Regions from separate parts of the Homo sapiens genome. Here region 2 is linked to region 1. Evidence: fine-mapped expression QTL. Tissue or cell type: whole blood. Region 1 holds a variant in brackets; the other region holds the start of a gene. All regions are shown on one strand. Distances are from middle to middle.

Region 1 (2,752 bases):
CCACAGGCCAGCGGAGCCTGCACCACCGTGGAGACAACCTGGAGACCCTGGTCCTCCTGAACCCATCAGACAAGTCCCTGTATGATGAGGTAGGGAATGGCTGACGTCCTGGAGGGGGCGGGCTGCTGGGACCCGTGCCTTCTCTGTCTTCCTGTCTCGTGTCCTTGTCTTCATGCTGCCCCAGATCCTCTCAAGACACCCGGCACCACACTTCTTCGCCCACGAAGCCTTCCCTGTGGCTTCAGCCTCCGCTTCTTCCCTCCTCTGGGGTGGGAGCAGAAAAGCCTGGACTTTGGGAGGGAGGGGAGGGTAAGCACTCCCAGCTCAGGGCCCAGGACAGCGTGGGTCTGGAGGTGGGAAGGCCAGAGCAGACAGGTTTTCCTCCTGTGGGTTCCCTCCGGCTAGGCCCCAGGAGTTGTCTGAATCGACTCACTAACATTAACCAGCTTGTGGCCATCTGTACTCTACCAATTATACATCCGGAAGATGAACCAGACAGAGCCCTGGGGCATCCCACTACAGACCTTCTTACAGGTTGATTCCTTGGATCAACTTTTCCCTTTTGTTCCCTTGAGGGGCTCTCAGTCTTTAAGAGACAGAGTGAGACACAGACACCCCCAGCCCTGTGGCATCAGGGCTGGGCTGGAGGGAGAGGTGGACTAGAGAGAGCCCAGAAAGGGCAAGTAGTGCCTTCAGGAGGAAGGGACATCAGAGCTGGGCTTTGTAGGATGAATAGGAGTTTGCTAGGGTTGCTCCAGGGCCCAGCAGGAGACCTGGAGACTGCCTTCGTAGCTAGTTGAGCACTGGGCTGGTCGTGGGGTGAGGACAGGAGAGGGGTGGTTATGTATCGACTCGAGGCTACCCCAAAGAGGACTGCTGGATACGTCACTGCACAGAACGGGTCCTTTAGTGTTCACCCCCTCCCTCAGCTCCGGAACCTTCTGTTGGACCCTGCCTCTCACAAGCTACTGGTGTTGGCTGGGCCCTGCCTGGAGGAGACGGGGGAGCTGCTGCTACAGACAGGGGGCTTCTCGCCTCACCACTTCCTCCAGGTCCTGAAGGACAGAGAGGTAAGCCACCCCTTTGCCATCCCCTGCTTCCCCAGCTCTGAATCCTGACTGGGGTGTATCAGGCTGTGTGGCACCAGCGACCTGCTGTTTTCCATGGCCTGGTCTCCCCATCCTCTGTAGGATGGCAGTGGTGACACATGCCTCCTGGCTGTCTGGGGTCAGTCCCATTGCCCGCGAAAGGGTGTGGTGTGAGCTGAGTTTGTAGGTCAGCAGATGTCCCAAAGTCCTGATGAGGGATGGAGCCAAATGGGTCCTTCCTGGTGCCCGCAGTCTGGGTAGGACACATGGGCAAAATGGCAAACCTCACTTTCAC[A/G]TTGTAGTGGGGCACTTAAAAATGGTGAGAAAAGGTTCAGTAGACAGGTGGGGCGTGGAGAGTCTCCTTGGAGGGAGCTGTGCCCTGGGAGGAGAGAATGGTGAGTGTAAAGGCCCTGGGGCAGGGAGGCATTTGAAGGGGAGGGAGAGACAGGAGGTGAGGCCAGATCAAAGAGCCTTGTGGCGCTGGAGAGGGTTGGGTTTTGGCGGGAGGGCCCTGAGGAGCAGGCCCTGGGGGAAAGGATGAGGGTGTCCTCGCCCAGTTTTCCCACCGGGCTAGGTGTTGCCTGGCTCTAGGTGGTCCCTTACCACTCCTCCTCCATACAGATCCGGGACATCCTGGCCACCACGCCCCCACCTGTGCAGCCGCCCATACTCACCATCACCTGCCCCACCTTCGGTGACTGGGCTCAGCTGGCACCCGCTGTGCCTGGCCTTCAGGGGGCGCTCCGGCTCCAGCTGCGGCTGAACCCCCCGGCGCAGCTGCCCAACTCTGAGGGCCTGTGCGAATTCCTGGAGTACGTGGCTGAGTCTCTGGAGCCACCGTCCCCCTTCGAGCTGCTGGAGCCCCCGACCTCCGGGGGCTTCCTCAGGCTGGGCCGGCCCTGCTGCTACATCTTCCCTGGAGGCCTCGGGGATGCCGCCTTCTTCGCCGTCAATGGCTTCACTGTGCTGGTCAACGGTGGCTCAAACCCCAAGTCCAGTTTCTGGAAGCTGGTGCGGCACCTGGACCGCGTGGATGCCGTGCTGGTGACCCACCCTGGCGCCGACAGCCTCCCCGGCCTCAACAGCCTGCTGCGGCGCAAACTGGCGGAGCGCTCCGAGGTGGCTGCTGGTGGGGGCTCCTGGGACGACAGGCTGCGCAGGCTCATCTCCCCCAACCTGGGGGTCGTGTTCTTCAACGCCTGCGAGGCCGCGTCGCGGCTGGCGCGCGGCGAGGATGAGGCGGAGCTGGCGCTGAGCCTCCTGGCGCAGCTGGGCATCACGCCTCTGCCACTCAGCCGCGGCCCCGTGCCAGCCAAACCCACCGTGCTCTTCGAGAAGATGGGCGTGGGCCGGCTGGACATGTATGTGCTGCACCCGCCCTCCGCCGGCGCCGAGCGCACGCTGGCCTCTGTGTGCGCCCTGCTGGTGTGGCACCCCGCCGGCCCCGGCGAGAAGGTGGTGCGCGTGCTGTTCCCCGGTTGCACCCCGCCCGCCTGCCTCCTGGACGGCCTGGTCCGCCTGCAGCACTTGAGGTTCCTGCGAGAGCCCGTGGTGACGCCCCAGGACCTGGAGGGGCCGGGGCGAGCCGAGAGCAAAGAGAGCGTGGGCTCCCGGGACAGCTCGAAGAGAGAGGGCCTCCTGGCCACCCACCCTAGACCTGGCCA
Region 2 (2,752 bases), 26 kb after region 1:
CAGTGCTTTTAGGGGTCCCTAGGTTGATGTTTTCACTTCTTTTAAAATCCAAAGGGAAAAAAATGAACTCTTGGGTTGAAGGAAACATTTTTGTGTATAATATTAATATATTTGTCTTTATGTCAATGTAGTTGTAAAATACAGTTTTGTTTTGTTTTGTTTTTGAGACAGAGTCTCTCTCTGTCACCCAGGCTGGAGTGCAGTGGCTCGATCTCCGCTCACTGCAACCTCCATCTCCTGGGTTCAAGCGATTCTCCTGCCTCAGCCTCCCGAGTAGCTGGGATTACAGGCATATGCCACCCCACCCAGCTAACTTTTGTATTTTTAGTAGAGACGGGGTTTTACCATGTTGCCCAGGCTGTTCTCGCACTCCTGGGCTCAAGCAATCCACCTGCCTCGGCCTCCCAAAGTGCTGGGATTCCAGGCATCAGCCACCACCTAAAATATAATTTTAAATTTCTTTTGTAGTGAAGGAAAGCGCTCATGAATGCAAAAATGTCTTCCCCTTTCTTTTCTTTTTTTTTTTTTTTTGAGATGGAGTCTCGCTCTGTCGCCAGGCTGGAGTGCAGTGGCGCAATCTCGGCTCACTGCAACCTCTGGCTCACTGCAACCTCCACCTCCCGGGTTCAAGTGATTCTCCTGCCTCAGCCTCCTGAGTAGCTGGGACTACAGGCATGGGCCACCACGCCCAGCTAATTTTTGTATTTTTAGTAGAGACGGGGTTTCACCGTGTTGGCCAGGATAGTGTCAACCTCTTGACCTCGTGATCCACCCACCTTGGCCTCTCAAAGTGCTGGGATTACAGGCGTGAGCCACCGCGCCTGGCCATGTCTTCCCCTTTCTGAGCGCATTTCCCTCTCTGAGCCTCAGTTTGCCCAGTCTGTGAAGTGGGTATCGGCCTACCTCAGGATGGCAAGATGTTGAATGCCTGGGCCAGGGTTGGTGCTCAGTTATTTCCCAATTGCCATGATTAATATTTGTTCGGTAAGAACAGCTCCAGGTTCAGGCCGGGGGGCTCCAGGTTCAAGCGCCTCTTGTTTACTCACCCATGGCCTGTGTGGTTCCAGGGAGGTCCCATGGGTGCTGATCGGGCGGGGGAGGAAAGGTGGCGGTTGGATGGTAGGCGGGGCGGGGTGAGCTTCCTGTCCCCCCCCCAACCCATGCACACAAGCCTCCAACTTGGTGCTGACGGAAGTGGCCTCGTGGCTGTCTCCTGGCGCCTGCCCCGTCAGACAGGGGCCCCATCCCACTCGCTACCCTGTCCGGTGAGTTTGAGCCCTGGCCAGTAGATACCCATCATCTCGCCTTGGCCCCCCTCAGGAACAGAGGGGAGGCCCCCCTGCCCGGAGCCTGGGTTTCAGGAGAAGTAGCAGGTGTCACTTCCTGGGCTGGCCAAAGCCTGCATGGGGCCACCCGTTGCCCTGCCCCCCGTCCCCCATTCCAGCTGTGAGTGGTGGTTTGGGTTAGGGGGGCGGCAAGGGGAGCTTGGAAACCCAGAGAGCCACGCGTGATGGTTTCAAACAGGAGGTCATTGGCAGACAGACCAGGGGCAAAATCACAGTCAGCCGGGACCAATGATTGATCTCTCTGTGCCTCGGTTTCCTTCATAAAGTTGGGGTTGCCTCTGAGGGCATGGCATGAAGATTGGATGAGCAGATGCGTGTGAATAGTTGGGTACAGGGTCGCACACATACTGGTGCTCCATGTGTATCTGTCTGCCAGAGGTGGGGTGAGGCAATCTAATTGAAACTGTGAAAACAGTAGTGAGATTCTTGGTTTCTGGGGAACTTGGGCTCCTTGGTTCCTGGGATCTTCTAGAACAATGTTGGCCATCCAATACAGCAGCCATCAGCCCCATGTAGCTACTGAGCCTTGGAAGAGAGGCTGGCACAGCTGAGGAGCTGGGCATATAATTGTATGTATGTATGTATGTATGTATGTATGTATTTAATTATTATTTTTTTAAGACAGAATCTCACTCTTTCAACCAGGTTGGAGTGCAGTGGGGCAATCTTGGCTCACTACAACCTCCGCCTCCCAGGTTCAAGTGATTCTCCTGCCTCATCCTCCCAAGTAGCTGGGACTACAGGTGTGTGCCACCACGCCCTGCTGATTTTTATATTTTTTGGTAGAGATGGGGTTTCACCATGTTGGCCAGGCAGGTCTCGAACTCCTGACCTCAAGTGATCCACCCACCTCGGCCTCCCAAAGTGCTGGGATTACAGGCGTGAGCCACTGCGCCCAGCCAATTGTATTTAATTTTACTTGGTTTAACATTAATACAAAAATTAATACAAAAATTAAGGCCAGGGGTTGTGGCTCATGGCTGTAATCCCAGCACTTTGGGGGTCCCAGGCAGGAGGATGGCTTGAGCTCAGGAGTTCGAGACTGGCCTGGGCCACACTAGTGAGACCTAGTCTCTACAAAAAAAAAAAAAAAAATTTATTTTTAATTAGTTAGACATGTAGTCCCAGCTACTCGGGTGGCTGAGATGGGAGGATCACTTGAGCCTGGGAAGTCGAGGCTGCCATGAGCTGTGATCATGCCACTGCACACTCCAGCCTGGGTGACAGAGCAAGAACCTGTCTCCAGAAAAAATAAAAAAATAAAAAAAACTTAATACAAAAATTATTCAGGCGTGAGCCTGTAGTCTCAGCTACTCGGGAGGCTACTATTCAAGGCTCCCTTGAGCCTGGGAGGTGGAGGCTGCAGTGAGCTATGATCGCACCACTGCACTCCAGCCTGGGCAACA

The links. PIP is the estimated chance that this variant, and not a neighbour inherited with it, causes the effect.
Region 2: FCHO1 starts here. The variant in region 1 is fine-mapped to the expression of FCHO1 in whole blood (TOPMed, PIP 0.97).

What each region holds. Positions count from the first base shown.
Region 1 is chr19:17,724,120-17,726,871 of GRCh38, forward strand. MAP1S (microtubule associated protein 1S) reads left to right here. Exons shown (of 7, transcript NM_018174.6): 3 at 7-89; 4 at 930-1,070; 5 at 1,710-2,752. Among named protein-coding and RNA genes, the nearest start is that of MAP1S, 6.0 kb to the left of the region's middle. The variant A/G (reference allele first, on the strand shown) is at 1,384.
Region 2 is chr19:17,750,313-17,753,064 of GRCh38, forward strand. It overlaps FCHO1 (FCH and mu domain containing endocytic adaptor 1), which reads left to right and starts at 1,165. Exons shown (of 29, transcript NM_015122.3): 1 at 1,165-1,265. FCHO1-AS1 (FCHO1 antisense RNA 1) reads right to left here and starts at 1,085. Exons shown (of 5, transcript XR_007067152.1): 1 at 904-1,085; 2 at 346-438.